Homo sapiens: one gene and its partners. The protein of the gene in region 4 interacts with the protein of the main gene of each other region in a pairwise test. Each region holds a gene or a part of one and is shown on either strand. Other genes may lie near its edges.

Evidence for each region.
Region 1: the proteins of YTHDF1 (region 4) and PRRC2B interact in a two-hybrid assay, tested with the Homo sapiens proteins (2 studies listed by BioGRID, with this or other methods).
Region 2: the proteins of YTHDF1 (region 4) and DHX30 interact in a two-hybrid assay, tested with the Homo sapiens proteins (2 studies listed by BioGRID, with this or other methods).
Region 3: the proteins of YTHDF1 (region 4) and PRR32 interact in binary tests that used the Homo sapiens proteins (3 or more experiments, as listed by UniProt).

The regions. Positions count from the first base shown.
Region 1 is NC_000009.12:131,473,170-131,481,624, reverse strand, and holds part of PRRC2B (protein PRRC2B), read right to left. Parts: intron 8,118-8,455; coding exon 7,901-8,117; intron 7,172-7,900; coding exon 5,090-7,171; intron 3,882-5,089; coding exon 3,676-3,881; intron 3,152-3,675; coding exon 3,006-3,151; intron 2,374-3,005; coding exon 2,232-2,373; intron 1-2,231.
Region 2 is NC_000003.12:47,805,632-47,814,086, reverse strand, and holds part of DHX30 (ATP-dependent RNA helicase DHX30), read right to left. Parts: intron 3,431-8,455; 5' UTR 3,404-3,430; coding exon 3,376-3,403; intron 1-3,375.
Region 3 is NC_000023.11:126,814,355-126,822,933, reverse strand, and holds PRR32 (proline-rich protein 32), read right to left. Parts: upstream 3,206-8,579; 5' UTR 3,091-3,205; coding exon 3,071-3,090; intron 2,276-3,070; coding exon 1,399-2,275; 3' UTR 1,148-1,398; downstream 1-1,147.
Region 4 is NC_000020.11:63,193,916-63,199,573, reverse strand, and holds the end of YTHDF1 (YTH domain-containing family protein 1), read left to right. Parts: intron 1-2,839; coding exon 2,840-2,866; 3' UTR 2,867-4,145; downstream 4,146-5,658.

The DNA of each region.
Region 1 (8,455 bases), on a different chromosome or scaffold from region 4:
AACTCCCCTGCCTCCCCTGCACCCGCCACCCCAGCCCCCTACCCGTGACACCCAGTGAACGGCTCTGACGTGGAAGAGCTGGTCTGACAGCCTTACCCAACTTTCCACATCCTCACCCAACGTGTTTCTCAACATCTCATGGATTACAGGAGAGAGTGAGCAGGGCAGAGCCCTCACTCCTGCCAATCTGGATTCTCTGTCGTTATTTCCGCTATGCTCATGCTTCTTTTCACTTATACTATTTCTAAAAGTTGGTAGCTTCTCTTTTTTTACATTAAAAAATATATCTTTCTTTTTTTTTTTTTTTTTTTTTGGAGACGGAGTCTTGCTCTGTCGCCCAGGCTGGAGTGCAGTGGCGCGATCTCCACTCACTGCCAAGCTCTGCCTCCCGGGTTCACGCCATTCTCCTGCCTCAGCCTCCCGAATAGCTGGGACTATAGGTGCCCGCCACCACGCCCGGCTAATTTTTTGTTGTTGTTGTATTTTTAGGAGCGACGGGGTTTCACCATGTTAGCCAGGATGGTCTCGATCTCCTGACCTGGTGATCTGCCTGCCTCAGCCTCCCAAAGTGGTGGGATTACAGACGTGAGCCACCAGGCCTGGCCTTCTTTTTTTTTTAAACAATAGAGACAGGGTCTCACTCTGTTGCTGGTCTTGAACTCCTGATCTCAAGTGATCTTCAAGCCTTGGCCTCCCAAACTGCTGGGATTATAGGTGTGAGCCACCACTCCTGGCCAAAGTTGGTGGCTTCTACAGAGTCTTTGAAAGATCCCAGCGGGTATTACTAAAAATTTTTAAGCTCACAGACCACTTTTTGAATGGCCATGGATCCGGAGCCCAGAAAAATAGATATGCATGCAAAAGTTGACATGCTAGCAGGGGGTGGGGGCACATATCTGCAATCCCAGCTACTCAGGAGGCTGAGGCAGAAGGATTGCTTGAACCCAGGGGTTCAAGTCCAGCCTGGGCAACATAGTGAGACCCCATCTTTAAAAAAAAAAAAAATCCTTTCACATGCTATTTTAATATCCAAGGGCTCTCTGAAGCCATCCCTTGGACACAACCCCTGGTCTGAGAAACCAATGAGCCCCTGCAGAATTCTGGAGTAAAAGATCTGACAAAAGGGGATGATGACTCACACCTGAGAGTCACATCTGATTCACACCTGGCAGCTCAACCAATCTGGCACCTGGGCATTTTTGGACACCAATACTATGACACCTGTCACTCAGCCACTACCAAATGTAGTGTTATTGATGTTTTATCAAATGGTTGTGCTTCCTTTCCATCAAAGCTGGGCATGTTGAATGTTATTTTGTAGTTTGCAAGAACCAAAGTTTTCACCGAGCACATGAGGACAAGCTATGTGGAAACAGTGAAAGAATCAAGGCCCAGAACTCAGTGTCTCGGGTGCTTGTCCTATGACCCTGGAGTCCCTGAGTCAAGTCCCTTCCCTCTAGAAGCTTCAGCTGCTTTGCAGAAAAATGAGCTGGCACTAGGTGACCTCTCCAAGCTCCCCTCATGGGCCTGAGCTGTGAAATATCGAATGTCCATGTTTTTATTCATCTATGCATGCTCTGGGCTAACAGCGCAGGGCCCTGCCTCACCTAAACCTCAAGAAGAACCTATTCTATGAAAATAGTTTTCTATTTTATAAGGAAAAATTCCCAGAAAAATTACATTTGATATAGAATTAAAAAAAAAAAGTTTTCAGGGCAACAAATGTTCTAAGAAGTAACGTATACCGTCTTCTGGTCTCAGTTTGCCTTTCCAGAAGAGCATTCAGGGAGGGGTTTCCAGAGCCTTCCCCATGTTAAGAAAAGGGTGCACAGCACAGAAGAGAGCTCCTGAACTCTTGCGGCTGGTCTATCTGTCATTTGCTTCTCTTCCATAAGTTAGTGGGAGAAAACGACGACCAACAAAGAAGGCCATTCCCACTACTGTGTGATCTAAGCCCAAGGGGCCATCCTTTTCCAGATCACCAGACTAATGAATGCTCTGCTCTTCTACCAATTTTAGGCAAGGAAAATTGTGTATCCGTTTGGGGGTTGCAGCAGCAAATCACTCAGACGGCATTCAGCGACTAGCTCAGCAGCGGAACACAGCAAACAGGTACTCCATCTGTATTCCATCTATATTCGTAGCTCAAAAGCAGGATCCTCCCCAGAAGCAAACCCAGTGTGTGATGTGACCTTGGGTGCCACAGCTGGGGTCACACCCCCAACTCTCACCCTGGCTGCTGCTCTCCCAGATCTCAGTGCCCAGGCTGCTGCCAGGCACGGTCACGTCACCTTGCTCCAGACATAAGTTGTTCTGCTTTTTTGCAAATCGAGGAGGAATACGGGAGGAAAGGCCTCGACCTTTGACAGGCACCTGAGGGGAAGAAAGGATGCTGTAGTCTAGCCAAAGGCACCAAGACTGACAAATTCTCCCCAGGATAAGTATCCCAGGTACCAAAAATCACACCACCTGAAAATGCTCCAGAGATGTGTGGAACGCTCGTCTCCCAAAACCTCAAGCAGAACTGCGATGCCAAGCAAAGCACCCCCCAAGAAAGACCTGAAAGGCCAACGGACTGTAATCTGTGTGCAGGTCCAGCCCTGACTCCATTTTAGTATAGCGTTCACGATCCACTTGACTTGAGGGAGACAAATCTCATTCCACTCAGGAATGAGGAGTGGGGAGGAAGGAGAAGCTGGGAGGTGACGGAGGTCTGCATCTTGCCTTGGACAAGTTTCCACTGTTATCACCCTAGAGAAGTCACCCTCTTCAAGACTCGGTTTCTTCCACTGCATAACAGTGATGCCACCACCTATTCCTACATTGATAGAAGGGCCTTGGTAATAGCAGGAACGGGGAGACAATGTGTGCTTGCTAAATACTCCTTTCTTCCTCTCTGCCACCTTGAGCTTGACCGAGAACTCCCTTACCCTCTGGCTCTGGGTTTCCTGGGCATCTGCCAGCCTGCCCTCCAGCCCCATGCCCCCCCACCCTCCGCCCCTCACCTGCACGGCCTGCTCCTTCTTTCTTCTCTCTTCCTCCAGCAGGCGGCGCTGCTTCTTGGTCAGGACTTCGATGAAGCCTTCGCCCACCATAGAACCCACCTCACTCTCCTCCCCGGGGCTGGACCCGCAATTTTCAATGATGGCACCTGAACCAAGATTTCACGAGAAGGAACAGTCTTTCCACTCACCAGGAGACAAGAACAACCCAATTCAACAGGCGCCTGAGATCTAGCATCAGGCTCGACAGAAACCTGGACAGGACTTCCGCACTTTTCTCAGGCCGCCTCTGATCTAACACATTGTTACCCCAAACCAAAGAGGCCCAAGGGCACAACTGAGAGAACACGCAAAGAGCTTAAACCCCAGCTCTGCTCCTACAGCTGTGTGTGACCTCGGACACACCACCGAACGTCTCTGGGCCCCAGGCTTCCTCTCTTTAAAGCCCGGAAGCTGCAGGGTGTCACGGGGATTCAACGGGCTGTGAGCAACACTCGGTGGGAATCCTACCTACTCTGCTCACCTCTACAGCCCCAGAACCCAGCCCAGGGCCTGGCCGAGCTGTTCCGAAAGCTAAGGTACTCAGTGCAAGGGCAAACTCGGGAGGCCCGAGGACTGCATGGCCCCTGGTTCTGCCTGAGTTCTTTCCCCTGAAGATATGAGGATGACTTACTTCCATAGTTCAGGTCAAACTGTTTCATGGCCTCTCCCTGTTCACCTGCCCTCGGAGCAGCCAACTTGGCCTCCTTCTCTGCCTTTTTACTGGAGGCTTCGGGAAGGTCAGCACTGGCATGGGCTGCCCGCTCCAGGGCATAGGGGGAGTGGCCACTCCCACTGCTGCAGCCACTAAGACCTCCAGGCAAGGCCTCGTCTGGGGATCTGTAAGGGAAAGAGGATCTTGTTAACCAGAGCTGGGGAAGGAGGGAAAACACCGCACGTGCACACAGCCTGCACACAAGCCCGGCACCCTGATCTAGGCCCACTTCCTCTAGCTGACTCCTCGGGTGGGGAGGAGCGGCAGGCTGGCCACAGTGCATCCATGTCCGTGTGCAAACATACGTGTAAGGCTGCCCCCACCGGCTCTGCCTGCTCCTGGGGAAAGTGGCTCCCCAGGGCTCTCCCACATGCTATGTTCAGAGTGTAGGGGGGAGAGAGACAAGGGGAATATGCTCAGAATGGAGACGCCAGCATTTCTGCTCCTCTCCAGGACTGCCCTGCCGGAGGGCCCTTGGGGCAGAAAACTGAGGTGAAGCCAAGGGTCAGCCTCTGGCGCCTGGAAAGCTGGATTAGATGCCACCTGAAAGAGTCGGTGTTCCCTGTGGCTCCTTCTCTGGGAGTTTCTCTGCCTTGAATTCTAAGGAGAGTGGAGGTGTGAAGCCATCTTCCTCAGTATGCTGAGGACAGGGAAGGCCTCAGCAGCCCCTGCACCTCCCTGTCCGAGGCACAAGCCAAGTGCAGTCAGTCAACCCAGACTGTGCAGGGGACCCTCTCCTGGTCCCTGAGCAGAGGTCATCACCCGAATGCCTCTGGCTGTGGAAGAGGTGCTCGCCAGACCATGTGCAGCCTGCTCCCCTCTGCGTTTGCTGGGCTCCTGCCATGCTGAGGTGGCAACCCCACCGTGGGGCCACGTCTCCTCACAGTGGAGAAGCAGAACCATCTAGGAAGAGCCACTTCCATGCAGCCACGAGGCCAGCGATGCCCCCTAGGACGCCGCCTGGCAGCAACTCCGGAGCAGAGGACTCTGGTGGACTGACCGGCACCTGGCACTGTGCACAGGCAACGTTCCTCGCTGCAGCGGCCCCTCGGCGGGGCTCCAGGGACACATGACTGGACTCTCAGGTCAGGTGCTGGACAGTGGCCTCAAGAGCACCACTGGGGTGGGGGTGGGGGTGGGAGCTCTAGCCACAATAACACCACCACGAGAAGCAGACAGGCAATGTGGGGGCAGGCAATGGAGACGCGCACAGACGGCCTGGGGGCAGGCCCCCAGCCCCGACACACGGCGGCATCGGCATGCATGCGTGAACTCAGTGCTGCTGAGAACAGAACACAACAACAAAAAGGGCCCAGATGGTGTCTGGTTTTACCTTTTCACTTTCAAAGGCGTCCCATTCTGTTGGCTCTCATAGCGAGGGGAGGTGTCACCACCACCTGGCCTAACGGGCTTCTCCCCAAACCCTCCCGGCTCCAGCTTTCGGCTCTGTCTGTCAACCACGGGTCTCTGACTGGAGAAGCTCCTCTTGGCCAGCTCCTTCTTCTCACCCAAACTAGCCCCCGACAGGCCACCATCCACCTGGGAGTCGGGCTCGGACCCAGGGCCTTCCCGCCGCTCCCGCCGCTCGCTGAAGTCGCTGCTTTCGGAGGCCGTCTCCCACTCCTCATTGGCGTGATCGGAGGAGTTCTGGTAGGAGAGCTCAGGGGACCTGCGGCCCACAGTGCCACTCTTGTCCCCAGAACACAGTTTGGGCCTGCCTGGCCACTGACCTGCCAGCAGGTGGGGCTCCTCCTCGGGTCCCCACAGGCCCAGGGACTCCCGCTCTTGCCGGAGGCGCCGGAATCGAGGGGGCTTATCTTGGCGTGGGGGGCGCCTTCTCCTGAAGGGCCGGTTCTCTGCATTTTCAGAATCTGCCACGTGTTCATCTTGGAAGAAGGATCTCTTGTCCTCCGCGCGGCTGTCCTCAAAGCCCCGGCCACCAAATGCGTCAGGGTGTCTGTAGGAATCTGGGACATAGTCTCTGTCTGTAGGTCGCCGGGATCCGCATGTGTCGGAAGGGCCATATTCCTGCCAAGAGCTGCCTGGACTTTTGCTCTGCCAGTGGGGTGACTCTTTGGAGACGAAGGTTCTCCGTCCATACCCGCAATTGCTCAGCCGGGGAGGGAGGGCTCGCCCAAAGGCCCGAGGGCCTCGGCTCTTGGCATCTAGACCGCTGTGGTCCTCAGAGCACCCCTTGTTGGACCGCCAAGAATCTCTGCAGTCGCCCTTCTTCAAGGTGCTCTCCTCCCTCTCCAGGAGCGAGCCTTCATTCCCGTTCTCGGAGCCCCTCTGCCGGCGGCGCTTGGGAAGTTCTTCATACTCTGAGCCCTCGCTATGGGTCTCACTGGCAACTCTCCGTCGGGGCTTGGCTCTGGGGCAGTCCTCTGGCCGCGCAAACTCTCGCAGGCCCCGGCCACGGCCGCTGCGCTGACTGCTGCAGTAGATGCTGCGGGCCCCCAGGACCCCCCCACCACAGAGGCCGCTCCCATTTCCGCCAGCAGGCCGACCACGAAAAGTGAACTCTCTGAAACCACGGCCCCGGCCCCGGGCCTGTCCTCTGACCCCAAAGGCTTGCTCCTCATCAATAAAGATCCAGTTATTTCTCTTCATGGGGGGAACATCGCTGGACTCTCGTGGGGGTCTGGCTTCCCAGGCCTTGTCAGGTTTCTCCTCCTCTTCAAATTTGGTGGCCTCGCGGCCAAAAGTGGCATGGCCAGGGCCTTTGTCCTCCAAAGTGGTGGTGGAGGAGTTGGCCAGAGAGGCATCGTTCTCTTCGTCCTCATCCTTTTCTGCCGTGGGGCTCTGCTCCTTCTCCTTGGCCAGCCGGGTACTCTCCTCCCCTAGCTCCTGCTTAATCTTCTCAAGCTCCTTCTCCTTGTCTTCCACCTTGAGGGCTTTCAGGACTGGTTTCTTGATGGGTCCCGACCTCCGGGTCCTGCCCGTCTGCTCCGGGTGCTGGCTGCTGGAGCTCCGGGGCTCGGGAGTCCATTCAGGCTCCGAGGATGGCTGTTTGTTGGGGCTCCCGTTCTTGTCCCAGGAGGAGATGTTAAAGGCCGTCCCCTCCCGGGGTGTCTCCCGCTCAACACCATGGGCTGTGTCAGCGGTCTCTGGCTGGTGGCTAACATCCCAACTGCCACACTCTGGCTTTTTCTCATCTGGGACAAAGTCAGGCTCCAATGGGGAACACCTGAGGTTTTGGGTGTGACCCCCAGGAGCACCTGCATCCTGAACATTTTCTTGGGGTGGAAACAAAAGCTCCTGGCCTATTCTTTGAGAAGAGATACAGCTGTCAAAGTCTGCTTGGGCCTTCTTGTCAAAAGCACTCAAGTACTCCTCCCCTCTCTCCTCAAAGAGATCGCGCTGAGCACTTACGCCCCCTGCCCTTCCGAGTGAGGCAGAGAAAGAGCTTTCATTCCTGAAAAGGAACCAGAAAAATCAGTCAATGCGATTGGAGCCTGGTTCCTGGTTTCCATGCTGAACACAGAGCTTAGTTTTAAAAAGAAAAAACAAAAACAAAAACTAAAACACTTTTTAAAAAGAAAGCTAGAAAAACAAAACAAAAAACAACAACCAAAAAAAAACATAAGCATCAACATTTGTTCTATCTTTAAACACGTCTCAGAAATGCCAGGCCATGAATTGGTCGGTGGCCCCTGGAGTCCTTGAGAGTGAAGACTGTCGTGGCCGCAGGCTGGGTACGGTGTGCCCCCTGGAGACAGAGGAGCCAGGCAATCCTCCGGGTCAAAGAGCAAGAGCAAGCTGGAGCCTGGGAGGCCGTGAAGAGTCTGGGGCTATGGGGGTGGCAGGGCTAACTCTGTTTACTTCCACAGAAATGAGCCAAGACCCATGCTCTGGACCCCACCTGCCTTGTGAAGCCCCCACCCGCCTGCCCTGTGCCCAGGATTTGAGGACCCCGGGACTTCTCCTTCACCTTACGTCTCACCATCTGAAAAGAGCCTCTTGGACAAAGCATTCAAGCAATCCTCCTCACACTCTCCTTCCCCAGAGGAACCAGGAGTCCCTTCAAGGAGCACGTCTCCCGTGGGCAGTGTCTCCTAGGATGGTAGCTCATCCCAGGGCCCTCTCAATTAGGACCTGGAGTCCTCCTTCAGTGGCAAGGCAGCAGGACCAGGCTTCATCTCACCTGACACGCATGTCCATAGCCAAGGTGTCACTCGACTTCGGGTGCGGGAGCGGGTAGCCCTTGCTCTGCAGTGCCATGTAGCCCTCTGGGCTCCACACAGGGGGTGAGTCGATGGGGGTCACTTTTCTTTCTTGGAGTGGGGGCACACAGTTCTGATCCTCAGAGCGACAGCCTGTCCCATTGAGGGACTCCTGGGGCATCATGGGCTTCATCAGTCCTGAAGAAGGCAAAGACTGATCTACATCATCTCATTTAGAAAGCCCTGCTCCAATCTCAGGGTCAACCAAAGGCCCAAAGAAGTTAACAGTTACCCTGACTTTCATGTGGATACAGCACCCCACCCACCTACACATCATAGGGCTCTTAATCTTTCCTGACCTGAGGACCTCTGAAGGCACACACACATGCACCCTGCCTGGTTCAAAGACCTGTCCAAGGAAGGGGGCAAGAAAAGCACATTTGTCAGATATAGGCTTGGTCCTTAACACTCAGGACAGGGGATGAAGCCTTTCTATACAGGGCAGGGAGATACAACTGAGACATTGTTTAAAACAA
Region 2 (8,455 bases), on a different chromosome or scaffold from region 4:
TCAGAGACACTCACCATGAGAAAACCTGCTTTCATCGACCTTTTACAAGTGGGTAGACAATAAAGCCCACTGGTTAGTAAGTAAACACAAAGTGCTAATTTTAGCTAAAAAAAAAAAATGTGCTGCCCACACTAATCTCAAGTTCAGTTTTTTCCTTCTTACATACAGCTGGCCAAAAAAAAAAAAAAAAAAAAAGCCCAGGATGACAGAAATAAATTTTTTCAAACAATATGAAAACAGATGGAGTGGCTGGAGATACACAAGGAGGCAGGGACATGCTGCTCTCTGAGCCCTAGTACGTCCAGCCCTCCTTCTGGCCCCATTCAATGGGTTACACAGGGCACCACTTGGCCAGGGGTTTCCCAGGCCTCGAGGAACACAACTTAGAGAGAGAGAAGACACAATCAGGAAGACCTATTTAATCAGCAGTTATAGACGTTCTGTTATGGTTCTTATTTATTTGTAAAATATCCTCAGACAGAAGCCTCAGAATCAGCTTCAACACGGGCTACAGGCCCTTTACTCTTCAGTCTCTTGAAGAAAAAAAGTCATGTTCTAAGAAATACAAAGCTCTCAGGATCTGGCCCCTAAAGTCCCCACAGGCTACTTTACCTCCTATAAACACATTGTGAACTCTACCCTATAGCCCTGTCAAGGCTCAATTCTGCCATTGCCTATGCAACCCCCTCACTCAGTGTGCTGTAGAGCACTAATTTCAAGACTTGCCAGAATTTCTTTTTGTTTTTTGAGATGGAGTCTCGCTGTTTCGCCCAGGCCAGACAGTGGCGCGATCTCGGCTCACTGCAAGCTCCGCCCCCTGGGTTCACACCATTCTCCTGCCTCAGCCTCCCGAGTAGCTGGGACTATAGGCACCCACCACCGCACCCGGCTAATTTTTTATTTTGTATTTTTAGTAGAGACGGGGTTTCACCATATTGGCCAGGATGGTCTCAATCTCCTGACCTCGTGATCCGCCTGCCTCGGCCTCCCAAAGTGCTGGGATTACAGGCGTGAGCCACCGCGCCCGGCAAGACTTGCCAGAGTTTCTATGATCACTAACGAAAGAATGACTTTGATATAGTGTGGATATTTGTCCCTACCCAAATCTCATGTTGAAATGTAATCTCCTGCTGGTGGCTCACGCCTGTAATCCCAACACTTTGGGAGGCCGAGATGGGCGAAATCACTTGAGCTCAGGAGTTACAGACCAGCCTGGCCAATATGGCGAAATCCCATCTCTACTAAAAATACAAGAATTACCCGGGTGTGGTGGCACACGCCTGTAGTCCCAGCTACTCGGGAGGCTGAGGCAGGAGAATTGCTTGAACCCGGGAGGCAGAGGTTGCAGTGAGCCAAGCTCGTGCCACTGCACTCCAGCCTGGGCAACAACAGAGTGAGACTCCGTCTCAAAAAAAAAAAAAAAGGAAATGTAATCTCTGCTGTTGAAGGGTCACAGAATGGATCCCTCATGGCTTGCTACTATCCTTGTGATAGTGAGTAAATTCTCATGAAATCTTTTTTTTTTTTTTGAGATGGATTCTTGCCCTGTCGCCCAGGCTGGAGTGCAGTGGCACAATCTTGACTCACTACAACCTGCACCTCCTGGGTTCAAGCAATTCTCGTGCCTTAGCCTCCCAAGTAGCTGGGAATACAGGTGCACACCACCACGCCTAGCTAATTTTCTGTATTTTTAGTAGAGACGGGTCTCATCATGTTGGCCAGGCTGGTCTCAAATGCCTGACCTCAAGTGATCCGCCCACTTTGGCCTCCCAAAGTGCTGGGATTACAGGTGTGAGCCACTGCGCCCAGCCTCTCATGAGATCCTGTTGTTTATTTTATTTATTTATTTATTTATTTTTGAGATGGCATCTCACTCTTGTTGCCCAGGCTGGAGTGCAATGGCACGATCTCAGCTCACTGCAACCCGTCTCCCAGGTTCAAGCGATTCTCCTGCCTCAGCCTCCCAAGTAGCTGGGATTACAGGTGCCCACCACCACACATGGCCTTTTTTTTTTTTTTTTTTGAGACTGAGTCTTGCTCTGTTGCCCAGGCTGGAGTGCAGTGGTGTAATCTCGGCTCACTGCAACCTCTGCCTCCCGGGTTAAAGCTATTCTCCTGCCTCAGCCTCCCAAGTAGCTGGGACTATAGGCGCAGACTGCCACGCCTGGATAATTTTTTGTATTTTAGTAGAGATGGGGTTTCACTGTGTTGTCCAGGCTGGTCTGGAACTCCTGAGCTCAGGCAATCCGTCCACCTTGGCCTCCCAAAGTGCTGGGATTACAGGCGTGAGCCATCATGCCCAGCCAATCTTGTTTAAATTGTGTGGCACCTCCCCAACTCTCTCTCTCTGGATCCTGATTTTTGCCACGTGACACGCCTGCTCCCGCTTCACCTTCTGCCCCTGAGTGAAAGCTCCCTGAGTCCTCCCCAGAAGCCAAACAGATGCCAGCACCATGTTTCCTATACACCCTGCAGAAATGTGAGCCAATTAAACCTCTTTTCTTATAAATTACCCAGTCTCAGGTATTTTTTTATACCAATGCAAGAACAGCCTAATACAGACTCAATCCAACTTCCACCAGTGTTTACTGAGGCCTACTATGTGCGAAATGCTGGCCAGGTGCTATGCATCGTAAAAGCACACAACAGGCCCTGGCTACAGGGAGCTTCCAATCTAGTGACAAAATGATTAATTCAGAATAGACTAACCATGAGAACGAACAGGTATGGTACCGAGGAAGATTGGAGAAAGATTGCATTTGGTCAACAGAATTAGGAAAGGTTCATGAAGGAGATGGTATAAAATACTAGCCTAGAAAAATAGGATTTTAGAGGCCAGCCACGGTGGCTCACACCTGTAATCCCAGCACTTTGGGAGGCCGAGGTGGGTGGATCACTTGAGGTCAACAGTTTGAGACCAGCCTGGCCAACATGGTGAAACCCCGTCTCAACTAAAAAAAAAAAAAAGAATTAGCCGAGCTTGGCAGCTGGTTCCTGTAATCCCAGCTACTACGGAGGCTGAGGCAGGAGAATTGCTTCAACCCAGGAGGAGGAGATTGCACTGAGCCGAGATCGTGCCACTGCACTCCAGCCTGGGCGACAGAAGTGAGGCTCCATCTCAGAAAAAAAAAAAAGGATTTTAATAAGCAGGGAGTACGCAGAAGGGGGCACTGGGAGGAAGCATGGCAAAGGCCATGGCAAGGGTTGGCACAGATTCTAAGCACCATGCAAAAGGAAGGCTATAGGAAAGGCCTTTGGAAAACCACCCAAAGAAATGTGCAAGAACTACATACTGGGGAGAGACTTTCACAGCCCTCAGAGCTGCCCATCCCAATAAGGAAGGGCATGAGGTCACAAGCACAGTTGCAGTCTTACCTTTTCTGAATGAGTCCAGGCTGAACATTTCTGGCCAGGAGGGAAAGCTGGAATCCTGAGAACAAGGAGGGCCAAGAGGCAATGGTTAATATTCCTGGTCCAGCAACCCACAAAGAAGACTTCAGTAACATGGAGAGCACTGTTCAGAAAATGAAAAAAATGAAACTCTTCACTAATGAGCCCCAACTGCTGCTCCCCAGTCTTGAGGACTGGAAGGCCAGCTCCACTCTAGAGTAATTGTCTTTGCTTCTTTCTAATTGAGCACTTTCTTCCCTGTCCTAAAACTCCCCATATCCTGTTAAACAGAGGGAGATGCATTTCATCATGAGAGACATGTAGTTCTATCTAGTTCATCATAATACTTACAGGTTTCCTTCCCAGTTCATCATAATACTTGCAGGTTTCCTTCCTAGTTATCATAATACTTGCAGGTTTCCTTGGGACTTCCAGGAAGAAACGAAATTCTACATGGACCCCTTCTGTCATGTGGCATCAGGAAACAGGACTGATGACTGCCTTATGGGCAAACTGCCTTACTGGGCTTTCATAAAACCTAGTCAAGACCCTAAAAATGAGATTTGACTGACAGGATCAAAGAATAACTGTACAGTGATTCAGAATAAAAAGCTTTTCATAGCAGTCTCTATGAAATAACAAATATTAAGTTAAAGCACAACTATTAGCCAAAAGTTTTGGTGCATTTTGCTTATTAGTATATTTAACTGAGGACTATACTTAGAGATGACAAGAAAAAAAAGCAACACATCTGGTTTAACAATTTTGTTTTAAAAAATACTCAAACTCAGATTTATAGATGTTTTTATAATCCAGTACTCCTTGATTAGTGCAGTAACCTTAAATGGACTTTGTTTAAAAACATCTACACAGTGTTTAGCCAATCAGAATCATGTCCAACATTGATTGGAGTCTACTGGGGCCAACACTCCGGCTCCTGACTCCTGTTCCCTCTCATTCTCAAATTGTGGGGAGGTGGGGAGTGGAGGGCTGACCTGGGGCGGAATCTTTCAGGTCCATAGCAGGTCTGCCCTGATGGCCTCCACTCCCCAAGGGATGCTGGAAATTTCAGCCCATAGGATATGGTATATCACAGAGAAAACTTCAATACAATATCAACAATGATAACATTTACTTTAAGAAGTTACATTCCGGCCAGGCGCGGTGGCTCACGCCTGTAATCCCAGCACTTTGGGAGGCCGAGGTGGGCGGATCACGAGGTCAGGAGATCGAGACCATCCTTGCTAACACGGTGAAACCCCGTCTCTACTAAAAAAATACAAAAAAATGAGCCAGGCATGGTTGTGCGGGCCTGTAGTCCCAGCTACTCAGGAGGCTGAGGCAGGAGAATGGCGTGAACCCAGGAGGCAGAGCTTGCAGTGAGCCAAGATTGTGCCACTGCACTCCAGCCTGGGCGACAGAGTGAGACTCCGTCTCAAAAAAAAAAAAAAAAAAAAAAAAAGAAGTTACATTCCATAGACACCTTCTATCCAAATGAAAATAAAAAGTGTGTAATTTGACATTCTAATTTAAAAGAAAACCAGAATATTATAAAATCTAAAACATTTTAAGTGAATATTACTTAAAAAACAATACTCCCTGACCAACATGACCCCGTCTCTACTAAAAAAATACAAAAAATTAGCCAGGCACGGTGGCAGGCGCCTGTAATCTCAGCTACTCGGGAGGCTGGGGCAGGAGAATCGCTTGAATCCGGGAAGCAGAGGTTGCAGTGAGCCGAGATCGCACCATTGCACTCCAGCCTGGGCAACAAGAGTGAGACTCTGTCTCAAAAAAAACAAAAACAAAAAACAAAACTCGGCTGGTTGCAGTGGCTCATGCCTGTAATCCCAGCACTTTGGGAGGCTGAGGTGGGCGGATCACCCTGAGGTCAGAAGTTCGAGACCAGCCTGGCCAACATGAGGAAACCTCGCCCCCAGTAAAAATACAAAAATTAGCCAGCTGTGGTGGCGCATGCCTGTAATCCCAGCTACTCAGGGGACTGAGGCAGGAGAATCGCTTGAACCCGAGAAGCGGAGGTTGCAGTGAGCCAAGATCACACCTCTGCACTCCAGCCTGGGCAACAGAGCGAGACTCCATCTCAAAAAAATAAAAATAAAAAATAAATTTAAGAAAAAAAAAAAAGAAACAATACTCTATTGCTACGAAATGGTAAACTGGCTAGGCACAGTGGTTCACACCTGTAATCCCAGCGCTTTGGGAGGCTGAGATGAGAGGAGCACTTGAGACCAGGAGTTCAAGACCAGCCTGGGCAACATAGTGAGACCGCATCTCTAAAAAAAATTTTCAGAATTAGCCAGGTGTGGTGGTACATGCTTGCAGTCTTAGCTACTCAGGAGGCTGAGGCAGGAGGATCACTTCGCCCAGGATTTTGAGGTTTACAGTGAGCTGTGATCACGCCACTGCACTCCAGTCTGGGTGACAAAGCAAGACCCTGTCTCTCTTAAAAAAAAAAAACAAAAAGTAAGGCGGGTGCAGTGGCTCATGCCTGTAATCCCAGCATTTTGGGAGGCCGAGGCAAGCAGATCACCTGAGGTCGGGAGTTTGAGACCAGCCTGACCAACATGCAGAAACCCCGTCTCTACTAAAAATACAAAATTAGCCGGACGTGGTGGTGCATGCCTGTAATCCCAACTACGTGGGAGGCTGAGGCAGGAGAATCACTTGAACCCAGGAGGTGGACGTTCCAGTGAGATGAGATTGCGCCACTGCACTGCAGGCTGGGCAACAAGAGCGAAACTCTGTCTCAAAAAAATTTAAAAAAAAAAAGCAAAATTTAATGGCTAGGTGGGGTGGCTCATGCCTGTAGTCCCAGCACTTTGGGACGCCCAGGTGAAGGATCGCTTGAGGCCAGGAGTTCAAGACCAGCCTAGGCAACACAGTGAGACCCTGCCTCTAAAAAAAAAATTTGTAAGTTAATTTGCTTGCAAATAGACTCTTGATTTTGCTTTTTTTTTTTTTTTTTTTTTTTTGAGACAGAGTCTCGCTCTGTCACCAGGTTGGAGGGCAATGGCGTAATATCAGCTTACTGCAACCTCCACCTCCCGGGTTCAAGCTATTCTCCTGTCTCAGCCTTCCAAGTAGCTGGGACTACAGGCACACGCCACCATGCACGGCTAAATTTTTTTGGATTTTTAGTAGAGATGGGCTTTCATCATGTTGGCCAGGATGGTCTCGATCTCTTGGCCTCATGATCTGCCTGCCTCGGCCTCCCAAAGTGCTGGGATTACAGGCATGAGCCACCGTGCCCGGCCAGTTTTGCTTTTTAAAAGTCCCTAAACCTCTAGCCCAATATGTCAATTTAGGCTCATGTACCATTCTTTTTCCTGTACTAATCTAAAAAAACGATACTATGAGAATCAAGACAGGATCTTTTAGAGACAGAATTTACAGAGCTCTAGAACATTTCATAGAGATCCAAAAGAAAGCGGTCTTCCTTGTAATGCAGTCAGTAATGGTGTTTTGTTTTGAGACAGAGTGTTGCTCTTGTTGCCCAGGCTGGAGTGCAATGGCATGATCTCTGCTCACTACAACCTCCACCTCCCGGATTCAAATGATTCTCCTGTCTCAGTCTCCCTAGTAGCTGGGATTACAGGCACCCGCCACCACGCCTGGCTAATTTTTGTATTTTTGGTAGAGACAGTGTTTCACCATGTTGGCCAGGCTGGACTCGAACTCCTGACCTTGTGATCCGCCCGCCTCAGCCTCCCAAAGTGCTGGGATTACAGGCATCAGCCACCACGACCGGCCATAATGCAGTAATGTTTAAAAATCTTTGTAGTGGGCCAGGCTTGGTGGCTCACGCCTGTAATCCCATCACTTTGGGAGGCTGAGGCAGGCAGATTGCCTGAGGTCAGGAGTTCGAGCCCATTCTGGCCAAGATGGTGAAATCCTGTCTCTACTAAAAATACAAAAAAAATTGGCCAGGCACGCCTGAGCGCAGTGGCTCACTCCTGTAATCCCAGCACTTTGGGAGGCCGAAGCAGGTGGATCACAAAGTCAGGAGTTCGAGACCAGCACGGCCAACATGGTAAAACCCCATCTTCACTAAAAATACAAAAAATTAGCCAGGCGTGGTGGTGCACGCCTGTAGTCCCAGCTACTCAGGAGGCTGAGACAGAAGAATCGCTTGAACCCGGGAGGCGGAGGTTGCAGTGAGCCAAGATTGCACCACTGTACTCCAGCCTGGGTGACAGAGTGAGACTCCATCTCAGAAAAAAAAAAGAAAAAAATTGGCCAGGCACGGTGGCTCACACCTGTAATCCCAGCACTTTCGGAGGCAGAGGCAGGCAGATCACAAGGTCAGGAGTTTGAGGTTAGCCTGACCAAAATGGTGAAACCCCATCTCTACTAAAAATACAAAAATAAGCCAGGCGTGGTGGTGCGCACCTGTAATCCCAGCTACTCAGGAGGCTGAGGCAGGAGAATCGCTTGAACCCAGGAGGCAGAGGTTGCAGTGAGCCAAGATCCCACCACTGCACTCCAACCTGGGCAACAGAGTGAGACTCCCATCTAAAAAAAAAAAAAAAAATACAAAAAAATTAGCCGGGCTTGGTGGCATGAGGCTGAGGCAGGGGAATTGCTTGAACTAAGGAGGTGGAGGTTGCAGTGAGCCAAGATTGCACCACTGCACTCCAGCCTGGGCGACAGGGCAAGACTGTCTCAAAAACAAAAAACCTTGTAGCTCAATGTGTCTCTTAAGTAATTTACAGATAAGTAAAATGCTATTATATCAAGATTTCCTGCATAATGAAATACAATTTAACTCCAGGTAGAGTCACTTGGGGATGGTTCCAGGACAGAGACTCCACAATGACTAAAAATGATACCCTTCTGGCTGGGCACAGTGGCTCATGCCTGTAATCCCAGCACTTTGGGAGGCTGAGGCAGGCTGATCACCTGACGTCAGGGGTTTGAGACCAGCCTGGCCAACATGGTGAAACCCAGTCTCTACTAAAAATACAAAACAATCAGCTGGGCATGGTGGCAGGCGCCTGTAATCTCAGCTACTTGGGAGGCTGAGACAGGAGAATTGCTTGAACCT
Region 3 (8,579 bases), on a different chromosome or scaffold from region 4:
TTGTTACTTGAAATTTTAAAAGCTCCCATCTGAACATTTTGATAATCTCTCAGAACCATCATTATAATGGGGTGCTGTAGCAAATTATGAGGAATACAAACACAGCAGTATCTGAGAAAAACATTTCCATGTGAGTAAAGTATTTTCATTTGCACTTCAATGTTCTGAGCATATAGTGATATGGTTTGGCTGTGTTCTCACCCAAATCTCATCTTGAACAGCAGTTCCCATAATCCCCCTGTGTCTGTCTTGGGAGAGATCCACGGGGAGGTAATTGAATCATGGGGGCAGTTATCTTTATGCTGTTCTCGTGATAATGAGTGAGTTCTCACAGGATCTGTCAGTTTTATAAGTGCCTCCCCGACCTTCACTCTGCACTTTTCTCTCTGGTTGCCATGTAAAGAAGTACGTGTTTGCTTCCCTTTCTGCCCTAATTGTAATTTTCCTGAGGCCTCCCCAGCCATGTGGAATTGTAAGTCAATTAGACCTCTTTCCTTTATAAATTGCCCAGTCTTGAGTATGTCTTTATTAGCAGTGTGGGAATGGATCTAATACATATAGTAAGCTCTTTGTTGAGACAAAGGGTGAAAGGATCAGTCCTGTTCCACCTTGATTTTGGACTCTTATTGAGCCAGAGCTATATATACTATGTAATTAGCAACAAGGAAAAGTTGAAACACAAACACCAGTTCGTGTTGAAGCAGTGGTCTAAGAATACTCTTCCATCTTCCCTCCTCCTTCTTTCCTGACTTTTCAACTTGGTTCTGCCTATGACTGCTAAATGTTAGCTCTATTACTCTCACCTCAATCTCATCTGGCTTCTTTTACTGTTTGTTCATTTTTCTCTATTATCTGAACTTTAGGCTGCCTTTATGGAACTTTTCTTAATTCAGCCATCCAGCTCTAAGCACCCCTTATAGCCTTGGGTAGATAGAGATTCCCCAATCTAGCCTTGGCCTAGGAAGAACCTAACCACCCTTCCCCAGTCACACTGCAAGACAACTCAATAGAAAATAGTAACAGTCATTTAACTAAGCCATTTAGAAAACACTGACAGGTTTGTTTCTGCTTTAATTACCTTAAAGATAGAACACAAAATCCAAGGCTTTGGTTCCTGGGGTGTCATTTTGAAAAATAATTTACAGCATTTCAGACTTCACAATCTTTATTTAATCTCCAGTATGTAGGGCACATTTGTGCTAAACAGAGTGTGGTAGGGTACAAGGTTTCAAATAGGGCACATTAGTGCTAAACAGAGTGTGGGAGGGTACGTGGTTTCAAGTAGGGCACATTAGTGCTAAACAGAGTGTGGGAGGGTACAAGGTTTCAAATATAAAAGCATAAATGAATAACTTTCACCTCTTTCCACAACCCTTTTTTCATCCTTCCTTTTTGCCATCAGCTGTGCTCTCTGTTGGGTGATGCAGGAGCTGGCATTCCCCCAGAATGGAAATGGGCAAAATAAGAAGGCAGTGGAGGACCAAATATCGGAGGAGGAGCAAAAGGAAGAGGCATAGTGAGAAAGGGATTGAAAATCGGAGGTCGAGGAGGGATGAAACAATGAACAGTAGAGCAAGAAGGTAAACCTGGAGTACTGGAAGACAACGGGATAGGCCTTGGCCAATTATGCATGGGGTGGCATGGGCCCCTGAGTGGGAAAGAAACATGAGCCAGCTTTCCTCTGCAGGCTATTCGTGTATTTCCGGGCGGCACCTCCATTACTATCCCTGATCTAAGGGTGGGAATATGTGAAGGGCCTCTCACTTGTGGGCCCCTGGGTGGAAAGAACCCTTTACCTTGTGGCAAAGCTACATGCAACCTTGCGTTATTACTGCCTCTCTCAGTGCCCCCATTGTTGACCTTTGTGCCCCCTACTATCAGTGCAGGAGGGCCGCCAGAGACTTCCCAGGACACATTAATAGCATCCTGTCCCTCCTGCCTCCAGCCTGCCAGTGCATCAGAGCTGTTTACTTCTGCTGTTGCTAGGGACTCTTCTGCAACAGCAGGTGGTGGCCCGTAGGGGTGTCTATGAGCTCTCAAGCTATGAAGAGGAATGCAGGATCCTGTTCTTTCAGAGGGCCACTCCAGTTGCTTGCTATCCAGATCAGTCAGCACATTGACGGAAGGTCTCAGCGGTACTTGAGGTTGACCCCAGGGCTCTGCGTCATCCTCTGGCTTGGAACTCAGACATTGCAGGGGCATGTCGTGGTGCAGCTCCTGGTTCCCATTTTTGTCCACAGATACTACCAAGGGTGAAGGGGCGTGCCCTCCAAGGCTTGCAAAAACAGAAATCAAACAGCTAATAAAAATGGAAATGCACTGACCAGAAAATAGCTACAATATGTAATTGACTGAGCTCACTGAAATATACCAGGGAAAAAAGGAGTGCCCTCTCCCCTATATGTAGCCAAATACTTGCTCAGCGCTCTGGCCCCTTCCCAGGTGGCTTCTTTAGTACTAGGCTACATGATTACCCTTCATGACTACTCAGTGGCCTATTTCATTCCTCATTTCCCCACCTCCACAAGGCAGCAAGGAAGCTTAGAAGATGCACATAACTTAATAGTAAGCATATAATAGAAAATACCAGCTTTTTCAATTCTCTCTAGGATCTATGATTCACTAATCCTGGCATTCAGATTCTGGCAAGATTGTTCTGGTATGTCTTCCGAAGTAAAATATCTTTTTCTTCACAGAAGTCAAAGAAAAGTTAGTTATGTTAACAAACACACAAGTTTCTCTTCTTGAGGTATCATTCAACACTCACACCAAATTTTGTTAAAAATTCTTTCATTCAACCACCACCACACCCTAGAGTAAGAATTTCCTCATGTTTAAACCCCACTGTTTAGACTAGGGATTTGTAAATTTTCTTTCAAAATTACACTTCAAAGTTGCCACTCTTAAATCCGGTATTCTTAGTAACTAAATTTATGTCCTTCAAGTTTTTGTCTGTAATTTCCTCCCACATCTCCTCCAACCCATTCATCCCTGTCCCAGTTACACAATAAAGCAATTCAAACTGACTTTGCCTTCAAAATTAAACAGTTGTACTCGGTTTTGTACTTACACGTTTTCAATACAAGCCATGAAGAAATTTGATCAGAATAGCTTTCCTGAGGTGGTGGAGATAACCCACTGAACAGGCCAGCTAGGTCTGGAGAAATGACTCCTGCTTCTGCTTTAGAGGCTTGGCAACTAGAATGAAGCCAGGGACCAACTGCTTCTTTCTAGATTTGGAGTTCTCTTTCTGGGGTTACCAGTTGCTAAGGAAGGGAGGGAGAAAAGGAGTGGGGAGGGGGGTGGGTGGGGATGAATCTGTGACACTCCTTTGAACTTAAATGTGGGACTGGTGTTTGCACAGTAGTAGATGGATGGTAAAGGCATTCACTACATTAATTCTGATGCAGGGCAGTTGGAAAGACAAATCATTTCAAGAAGGATTTAGAAGAATCATGGAAGCATGATATTTTTTAAAGAGTTATTTATGAAGTTTTAGTTTCTACAAGGTAGTTGTCAAGTCTCCTCAAATTTGGAAACACATTGAGCAGAGTATTGTGCCTAATATTGTAACTTAAACTTCCAGTTTGGGGATGCATATTATTAACTTGGTGGAGAACAGAGGTTTGGGGGCTAAATTGCTTTTCTATCTGTGAAGATGAAACAAGAACTCCTCTAAGAATCATTGTGACATTATTTTTTAGCCCCTCACGTTGCAGTTATATCCTTCATCTTGTCTGTTAGTTTATAAGCTCTCTCTCTCTCTCTCTGTCTCTGTCTATGTCTGTGTGCACGCGCGTGTGTGTGTGTGTGTGTGTACGTGTGTGTATTTCCTGTAATAGAGCTCTGGAAGTTTCTCTCAAGTTGGGAGGGTCAGAATAAATGGCATAACAGGTATCATAAATTTATAAATATTAGCTTAGGTTTGGCCATGCAACATTTTTGCATAGGGAACTTTCTGTTTGTCCAGCCTAAATTTCATTTTAAGCAAGTTTACTTTCCCAGCTTTCTTTTCTGCCATTGATCTACAGATTAATTGCTCCGAAATTACAACAACCATTCCATCATCCAAGACAATTACTGTTGCTCTAGGACAAAGCCATAAACTTGGCAAACCTGCCTAAATTTACATAAAATTTGTGCTGTGCAGGCTAGACCTGGGAGATTGTGTCTTCCTTATTTTCAATATTAGTATATGTTGCTACAGTTCAACAGTAATGTATATTTCTTTTCTCTTAAGGAAAGATAACAGACTCAAATACCATGTGCTTCAATTTTTAGATATATGGTGTCTGTGTATCTGTGTGTGTGTGAGAGAGACAGAATAATGCATAAGTACAAAGTACTAATGTAAAGGAATGGTCACTACTGCAAATCAACACAACTCATATAGAAGTAACCTTTGGGGTCTGCAAGTCCACATCTTCCTGCCAGAGTGTGTTGTCTCCATCTATACAAGAAAGTGGCATGTTTCCAACATATTTTCCAGAAGAATCTGTTCACTTGCCTAGCATGGTTCACTATTAAGTAATCTCTTGATTCCCCAGATTCTGTTTCTATTCTTGCTTCAGTTTATTACGCACCTTGTCCTTATGTAAAAATAATAGTATTATTAGCAGTATTATTGTTGTGGGGTGTTAAAGCTCTTTTACTTCTTGTCGTATCAGAGAGGAAATTGCAACTTGGGTTAATGCCTGCTAATAGTTGGTGAATCACATTTAGATAAATAGTTTCAGTATAATAGGTTGCATATTTTTTTCCTGATAATAGCAACAAAGCCTGAGGAATGCCTTTTGTTCTTATCAAATTACTATAATAATAAACAATTTTACCTAGAAATACCTGTTTGGTAAGATATCATCTTAGTTGGATTACATAACAGTATGGTGTAATATAGGAACCAAATTGCTGGGAACAATGACAATGACCATGGCACCAAGAATTTTCCAAAGCCATGAAGTGTATAATTTATGGATATTACCTCATATTTTGTTTGTAACTTGTTTTCCTTTGTGCAAATAGTCCATATTTATTGAATGTCTACTGCGTGCATTCACTATTGTGTTAAGTGTTGATTTTACCAAAAAAGTTAAATATGCAATCCATATTGACTTCAGGGAATGTTCTAATTTTCTTGGGAGGCAAAATAACATCTATAAAATTATTGAAGAATGGCATAAAAAATAGCCACAGACCATTAGCTGCATGGTATAAGCTAAGACTGCAATGGAAATTCAGAAGAAGGAACTATAATTGTGGGTTAAAGTAGTTGTGACACAGTTTATGTGGGATTAAAACTTCTGCTGTGTTTTGAAAAATTGATATACATGGGCAGAAAAGGAGATGTCATGCTATGGGAAGAACAGTTATAGAAGTAGAAATAAAGAAAAAAATGGCATTTTGTAGTTCATATTTTAAATCAAAACTAGGGCTCATATTTGGCAGAAATAGAAATATAAAGTACCAATTAGACCCCTTAGAGATAGCGATCAACCAGATAATTCATGAAGTTTTACCCATAAATTTTACCCATAAATAAATATTTGAATACATTCAAATTTCAAAGTTAAATACAGCTATCTCAAAACCTACCTTTTCGCAAAAAGCTATCAGGGTAACTCAATCATCCACTGAGCATTGAAAATTCAGTAATAAAGTATATGCCTTTTTCTTTACTTCACTTAAATAACAGTTTTGGGGAGAGAAACATGGGTAATGAAGGTTGAAGTTTCACCAAAAAGTAGCCTAGTTAGCAAGGCAGCTGTTTGAGTCCATTTTCTGCTGCTATAACATAATACTTGAGACTGGGTAATCTATAAACAAAAGAAATGTATTTATCACAGTTTTGGAGGATGGAAAGTCCAATATCAAGGAACTGACTTCTGGCAAGAGCCTTCTTGCTGTGGCATCCCATGACAAAAGGTGGAAGCACAAGGGAGTGAGAGACAGCAAGGAAGAGAGGGCCAAACTCACTTTCATACCAACCCACTCTAGCAATACCAAACTCACTACTGCCTTATCAACATTAGTCTATTCATGAGAGTGGAGACCTCATGGTCTAATTAATCTTAATGGTCTCACCTCTTAATCTGTCACAATGGCAATTAAATTTCAACATGAGTTTTGAAGGGGGCCTAAGAAGTAGCTAAGGTATAAATGCCTTTCATTACCCATAGCCTCTTTATTCATGACACAGTTCCAGATATCATTTATTTACCTCTCAAAAAATTTTGATGACAGTATTGAAATGCTAAGTAAGGTCTGTAGAAAGATATATTTACTTTTGCACAGCAATTATGACTTTAATATAAATATGATTTCTGGGAATGGTGGCATGCACATGTAATCCCAGCTACTCAGGAGGCTGAGGCAGGAGGATGGATTGAGCCCAGTGGTTGGAGACCAGCCTGGGAAATATAATGAAACCCCATCTGAAACTTTTAAAAAAGTGTGGTTGATCTACCAAAATTGTGTTGCTGTGGGGTTTTTTTTAAAGAAATTTTGCAGATGTGTAAATGAAGGCAAAGTATCATTTAAAATACACCCTTTCTCTTTTGCTTCAAATAAGAATTCAGGATATAAAGACATAAAGATGATTTTTCTCTGTTTCCATCTAGCTTATAAGGAAATTGTCATGTTGACCTCTGGGGAGACAGTCATCAGAAAATCCTACCCATTTGCTCACTTTCCAAATGTAATTTGGCTATGCATGTGAAAAACTCTCTAAGTTTATGATGTCCAAAAAGTGCTTCTGGAAGATATACCAGGTTTTTGAGGAGTCTGTAGTCATTTATTCCATGTATTAAAGCATGAGAATCGTGAAAGCATGATACTTTCCCAAAATGGGCCAGGCAGCATTATTCTATTACACAGCTATAGGCAGTAGTCCTGTCTTCTCTGCCACCAGCTGTCCTGCAAACTCTGTGTGGTAATTGATGAGAACAAACAGGTGAGAGTGTGGCTATATCACCACCAGTATTGGCAAAAGCAACTAACAACATGTGCCTCACTGCTGGATCTAGCTGTATGAAATTCAATAGACTATTATTGCTTTTATAGAGTTTTTTGTTTCAGATTTAAATATTTACATATTTGTTTTAAGATGGGTAACATGGCAATTACTTCCAAACAGGTTATCTCTTTGTACAAATCAGAAGCTATCAGAAGTTTCCTCAACATATATCACTCATTTTTCTTGCTCTCATGGGGGTCGGAACCAGAAATTAAGTAGCACCAGGGCAAGTGAGATGAGAATAAAAAAAGGAAGAAGTAAAAGAAAATCTATTTTTTTTTACCACTTACTGTACACCAGACATTTGATATACATTGTCTCATTTAATGGTCACAGCAAACTTTTAAGGCAGCTATTATTATTATACTCATTTTATAAATGAGGAAAAAGAGAGTCAGAGAAAATAAGTAGAAGTTTCCCATGGTCCCAAAGCTAGTAAATGGCAAACAATATTCAGATACAGCCAATTTGACACCAAAGCCAATATTTCATTCATTTAATCACGTGGCCTCTAAATTATAGTTCTAGGTCAATCACAAAAGTGGATCAGATAAAAACGTGTGTACCAAATCTGAGTTTAGGTTTTTTGTAATGCATGGACCCATTGACCCTCATCCAGAGGTAGTTCTGCAATGAAGAAATCATCCAGGCTATAATGCTCACATCCCAGAAAGTCTGCCTCTGCAGGGATGCAGCAAGTGATTGAAGTGTTAGTTAATAATGTAGCAAGGTGGTGATGACTGAAAACACTGTCTTGGAGCAATTGGGGTGGGTGACAGATAATAGGAATTGGTTATAGGACAGCATCAAGTGACCATTACTGAGGAGCTAATGGCAATATGAGCCCAGCATTATCAATATTAAGATTTAATTAATGTTGAGCTCTTGAGCTGCACATATAGAAGATATAGGGTTCCTCATATTATTTCCATGGTAGTGTGTGTGTGTGTGTGTGTGTGTGTGTGTGTGTGTGTGTGTGGTGAAATGGGGGCCGAGCTTGAGTCATCCAAGTGAGGTATTAATGATAACCCTAGAGAATACCCTTCTGAATTAGATAAATATATAAATTAAAACATAAAAGCAATATGTTTATGTTCATATAGGGCATATAATATAAATTAAGATGCAAACATGGACTAATAAAATTAGAACAGTTAATGAAAACAGGTTAAAGTTTACAGAAAGCATCAGGCCATAAGTTTATAATGGTGTAATACATGTATTTGCCATGTCAGATTTAATTGCTGGGCCCAGGAGTTGAGGGCATGCTTAATTTCTTGAGTACTTGGTTTGAAAAACAAAATATATTTTAGATTAATTTCATCTTGCTTATAAACAAGACACTGGAAATTCATGTTGGAAACCTTTTATCAGTTTATTAAAAATGAATCTGTTTTTCAAAATTGTTATGAGCTTTGACTCTGGAATCATAAGGGCACAAATCTGGGTTTAATCTCAGCTTTACCACTTATCAACTGTGTTATCTTGGATAGGTTTCTTAACTTCTCTAAACCTCATTCTCCTTACCTGTAAAATGGGGTTAGAGAGAGAGTTATGTTAAGTAGTG
Region 4 (5,658 bases):
CCTCTGGGTTTCCCATGAAGAGTCAGTGCAGTTTTGTTTTGTTTTTTTTTTTTTTAAGACAGAATCTTGCACTGTTGCCCAGTCTGGAGTGTAGTGGTGTGATCTCGGCTCACTGCAAGCTCTGCCTCCTGGGTTCACACAATTCTCCTGCCTCAGCCTCCCGGGTAGCTGGGACTACAGGCCCTTGCCACCACGCCCAGCGAATTTTTTGTGCTTTTAGTAGAGATGGGGTTTCACCGTGTTAGCCAGGATGGTCTCGATCTCCTGACCTCGTGATCCGCCCGCTTTGGCCTCCCAAAGTGCTGGGATTACAGGCGTGAGCCACTGCGCCCGGCCGAGTCAGTGCAGTTTTAAGAACAAAGTAGTGTGCCGAGGAGAGGGTTGTGCGCCTGTGCTGGTAGAGCCCCCGGGCGGTTTTCTCAAGGTTCTCTCAGGACTTCGAAGAACAGACCCACCTTTTCTTTATCATTTAGAGTTTGGCCCCATTGCTGTAAAGGTCATAAACAAGTTGAGTGTTGAGAAAGTGAAGTAGAGTTAGCATTTTGCAAGATTGCTGTCCAGCTATAAATTTAGAAACATACTGATTTCTTAGGATGGCAGTAGCTTTTATGGCAGCAGAGTCAGACCAAGTCCTGGGTTGATACATTTTTTGGTTTTAAAAAAACCTAGAAACGGCCACTTCTTAGCTTAAAACAGTGAAAGTGGTGAGCGTCCCACACTGTGAGCATTGCTTAGTTCCTCAGACTGACTGTCCTTGCCCTGGCGGCAGGTGCCCCTGACCTGACCCCACTTCGACCTCCAGGCCGGCTCAGCAGAGTGGCTCTTTGACTTTGGAAATTAAGAAAGAGCATAGAGAATCTTAGGCCATAAGCATTTCCTGGATGCTTGTTGAGCATTCCTCAAAAGAACGAGCTGTGCTTCGTCATTTTTTTTTTTTTTGAGAAATTTTATGAGGAATAGTATTTTTTAAAGAGCACATAGTAAACTTTGTAGCTGTTTATAAGGGCTGAAGGGAGATGGGGATCTGGGGAGTTTACCTGTGAGTGGCTTTAACATCAGCTATTTGAACTCAAGAGATTGGTATTTGCTTTTTAGGAACAGCAGTACCTCTTTTGTTAAGAGATTGATTGATTGAGAGTTTCGCTGTCTCCCCCAGGCTGGAGTGAAGTGGCACAATCTCAGCTCACTGCAACCTCTGCGTCCTAGGTTCAAGTAATTCTTGTGCCTCAGCCTTCAGAGTGGCTGGGATTACAGGCGCCGGTCACCATGCCCTGCCAAATTTTTTTTTTTTTTTTGTATTTTTAGTAGAGGTGGGGTTTTACCATGTTGACCAAGCTGGTCTCAAATTCCTGAGCTCAGGCAATCCACCCACCTTGGCCTCCCAAAGTGCTAGGATTACAGGCATGAGCCACCACACCCAGCCTGGGAAGAGATTTTTTTTAACGGAGAATGTTTAAGAGAATGTAAAATACAGAGTTCTTAATTTTTCCAGTTTTACATTTGAGGGTAGGGAGGAAATGTTAATTCTTAAGAGTAGGACCTGCCTATCCAGGTCCTTAATCCAAATACTCTGGAGCCTTCTCGGGACAGGGAACACCACATCTGCTTCTGAGAGCAGCCACAGTTGAGGAGGCTGGTGTTTATTCCAGTGCCCAGCAAAGTTTATTATTAACCGGAAGACACATTCAGTCCATTTTTAGCAAAAGAGGAGGTTTCAGGTTAAATGTTTGGGTGTCCTGCCCGCTGGTTTTCTTTATTAGTTTGCATCTTGATAGATGGCCAGATGAGGGTGGATGTGCCTGGGATGCATCTTTTTGTTTTGTTTTTATTTCGAGATAGGGTCTCTCTCTGTTGCCCAGGCTGGAGTGCAGGGCAGATAATAGCTCACTGCAGCCGAAAACTCATGGGCTCAAGCGATCCTCTCGCCTCAGCCTCCCGAATAGCTGGGATTACAGGGTGCGCCACCACACTCGGCCTGGGACACCTCTCTAGCAGAGTGGTGCAGCGTGTGCTCCTTAGATCGCACATTTTCATCTTTGTATGCTGCCTTGTAAGGAGACTGAAGGGGCTTCTAGACCCTGCTACTCAGGGAGGCCAGTGTGGGAAAAGATTCGGGTGTAAGTCTCAAGCTTGTGTGTCACATACACTCTGGAAAAGATGATTCTCTTACGGGAGTGGGCAGCAAACCTGGTCAGAGGAGCTTTGCCTTGAGCCAGTCTAGCCGTGGGGGAGTGGGGAGGGGCATGCTCTTCCCCTTGGCGTGGGAGTGAGCTGGGGAGTGGGAAGGGCCTGAACTGGACAGGCCCACACCGGTCCTCCTGCCCTTCATTAGCCACATGACACAGCACCTTGTTAGCCAGTTGGAAGGATTTTGGTGTCCTTTGTGCCACTGAGAAGTTTAAATGAGATAAAATACAGAAGAACAGCTTCTGTCTCCCTGGCCTCCTTGAGAGCCTGGTGCGTGCCAGCTCCTCCCTCTGAGTGCAGAGAATTTCACATTGCTAAGTGTCTTTCCATGTGGAATGATAGTGGCACATGAGGGAAAGACAGCTGTGGGAAGTGAGGCTTCCCAGCAGACAGGTGGCCCATGTGACCGTTGTGGTTGATGCTTTTCTCCTGGTAGAGGGGGTGGGGAGAATGCCATGCCCAGTGTGGCCAGTCCCCCACAGAGCAGGCCCCAGTGCAGCTCAGAGTTGTGTGCTGGTGTGGCTTGGGTACCATTCAGGGTCCCGCCTCCAGATTTGCAGGTGCTGCTAAGGGGCAGCCTCGGATCTCACTTTTGGGAGGGATTCATTGGTGTGGTTACTCTGCGTTCAACTTTTGTTTTTTCTTTTTACAGGAACGGCAGAGTCGAAACAAACAATGAGGGCGAACCAGTTTCTTACATGTTCTAACGTTTGACTTTGAAAACAGTTTAAAACACGTGTGCTTGGTCAGCTCCAGTGTGTCGTCCCGTGCGGGGGTTGAGTGTTGCATCTTTGCCTTTCTTGTCGTTGATTTTTGCCCAGATGGATCTGCATTTATTTGTACTTTTTCTATGTATTATAATCCTGTAGAAGTCACTAATAAAGGAGTATTTTTTTTGTCAGCTTATCAATCAGACTGATCTAATGTGAAATGTAAGTATCCTTAAAAACAAAGCATCTATTTTGGCAGAAATTGTGTTCTTAAATTCAGTCATTTGATATTCTGTGAGACTTCATATTTCTCATCCCTTTATTGCTTTTTAGCAAACATAAGAAACCATGAGTCATTTTGTCATTTAGAGTATTCTGATAAAATCTCTTGAAAATACTGAAATCAAAAGGTTAATGATTTTTTGTTCATTCTGATTTGTCATTTTATTATCTGTTATCGGTCTAAAGTGCTAATTTACCCATTTGATTTTTCTGCTAGACAGATAACTTTTAATTTTTCAAATTTGGCAGACACTTTTTTTTTTTTTTTGAAAATCTTTCCTTCCAGATCTGTTGCCCACTGAACAGCCACCCGTCCCTCACTGTCCTGGTGTCCGATTGGGCTGGATGGTGTTGGGGCATGATGTGTGGAGGAACTGGAAGGTGCTTTAGGTCTGGTTCAGGGTCGGGCATTCTTTGTTGTTTGCACATCTTTTTAAATTTTACACCTTTTCTTAAGAATTCTAATGCCGTCTTAAGTTTTTATACCAATAATGCTGAGCTTTAAGTGTAGGATCTGGTAGTACAGACAGTGTGATGGATGATGCTGCTGGTTGTAAATTTCATCGTGTGTGTCTAATTTTTTTTCCTGTTGAATGGGTAAAAACAAAACAAAACTTTTTTTAGAAGATGAATTTGCTGTCATGTTTTGTGGAATGAGGGACCGTTGAGCTCACTACCACCTGGAGTTTGAGTTGAAGCATGAAAATGGTGCCCATGCCTGACGCTCCAGCGCCTGGATCTGCACGTGCCCTTGTAGAGGATCCTTACCGTCCTAGAGAGCAGACGCTTTCTGAAAACTACTTGCTCCAAAAGACCCTCTGAGTTAACGTTTCAGCTGTATCATTAGACTTGTATTTAGAGCGTGTCACTTCCTCTGAACTGTTACTGCCTGAATGGAGTCCTGGACGACATTGGGTTTTTCCTCTAGGAGAATACAAGCCTTAATAAACAATACTATTTAGCAAACTTGGTGTCACCTCATTCTTCACCCTACTTGATGAGTTTATGTGTTGGAGCTTTTTAAGCTGCAGAGCCATTCGGGGAGTCACCGTAGAAAGCCCTGTGTTTCTCAAGGTGTGGGATTCTCGTTCCCTCGCTTTGGAAGAGGGAGCTGTTAATTTCCTTAAGACTATAAACTACATGGCACCGTCACCCACCCCTCATCACATGAATGTGCAGACGCAGCGGTGCGTGCAGCACCTGGGCACCGCTACCCCCTTTCTGGACTTGGCTCCTCACCGTCTCTCTCCATTCATCCTCCAATGCCTCTTATTATTTATGCAATAAGAGTTTAATACCTGTTTAGTTTGTTTTCCTTTTGAGGTAAAATTTATAAGCAGTGAAATGCACATTGTGTACATCTGCAGAAGTTGACAAGTATGTGATAAAGTTATGCAATATTAGCCTCAGCCCAGAAAATCCTGAGCTCAGGCAATCCGCCCGCCTTGGCCTCCCAAAGTACTAGGATTACAGGCACGAGCCACCACACCCAGTCTGTGAAGAGATTTTTTTAACAGAATTTTTAAGAGAATGCAATGCAAAATACAGAGTTCTTAATTTTTCCAGTTTTACATTTGAGGGGTAGGGAGGAAATGTTAATTCTTAAGAGTAGGATCTGCATATCCAGGTCCTTAATCCAAATACTCTGGAGCCTTCTCGGGACAGGGAACACCACATCTGCTTTTGAGAGCAGCCACGGTTGAGGAGGCTGGTGGTTATTCCAGTGCCCAGCAAAGTTTATTATTAACCGGAAGACACATTCAGTCCATTTTTAACAAAAGAGGAGGTTTCAGGTTAAATGGGTGTCCCGCCCGCTGGTTTTATTAGTTTGCATCTTGATAGATAAGGGGGCCAGATGAGGATGGCATCTTTCCCAGGCAGTCACCACCTCTGCCAGAAGTTAGTAGTTGGTTTAAGGAAACACAAAATGAGAACGGGAAAACGTGTCTGTTCTGACAGGCCAGTTAGAGGTAGGCTGTGTGCTCCCACCTGCAGCTCCAAATGCTGCTGTCATTTTAGGGAAGTGTGTTTTCAACCTCGAGTGGCTAATTCCTTCATTTTATGCCATTTTCTTGCTTGTATTCAAGTCCTGGCCTCCTTTAAAGATGAGTTCCCGGCTTTCAGAATGCTGAGCCGAGAGGTGCTGAAAGGTGGCAAGCATGACGACAGGTGCCATGCTTTATCTTTGTTGTTTCGTTGTTGTGGAAGAAGTGGATGCTGTTGTCCCCACAGAGTGGGAGGTGGTGGCAGGGACTCTGGCAAGTGGTAGTTGCTGACTGGCTTGTGAATGGATAGTGGATTGGGCGGTCTAGACAACACCTCCCCTGAGGCCTCCAAACCGGAGGAGGCAGTGGCTTCTCCTTCTGCCAACTTGGAAAGTTTTGTAGAACTGACACCGTGTCTGGGTGTTTGGGGCCTCCTGCCTGCATTCGTGGTGCATGGTAATGCCAGGCAAGGAGCCAGGCCTACCAGGGGAAGG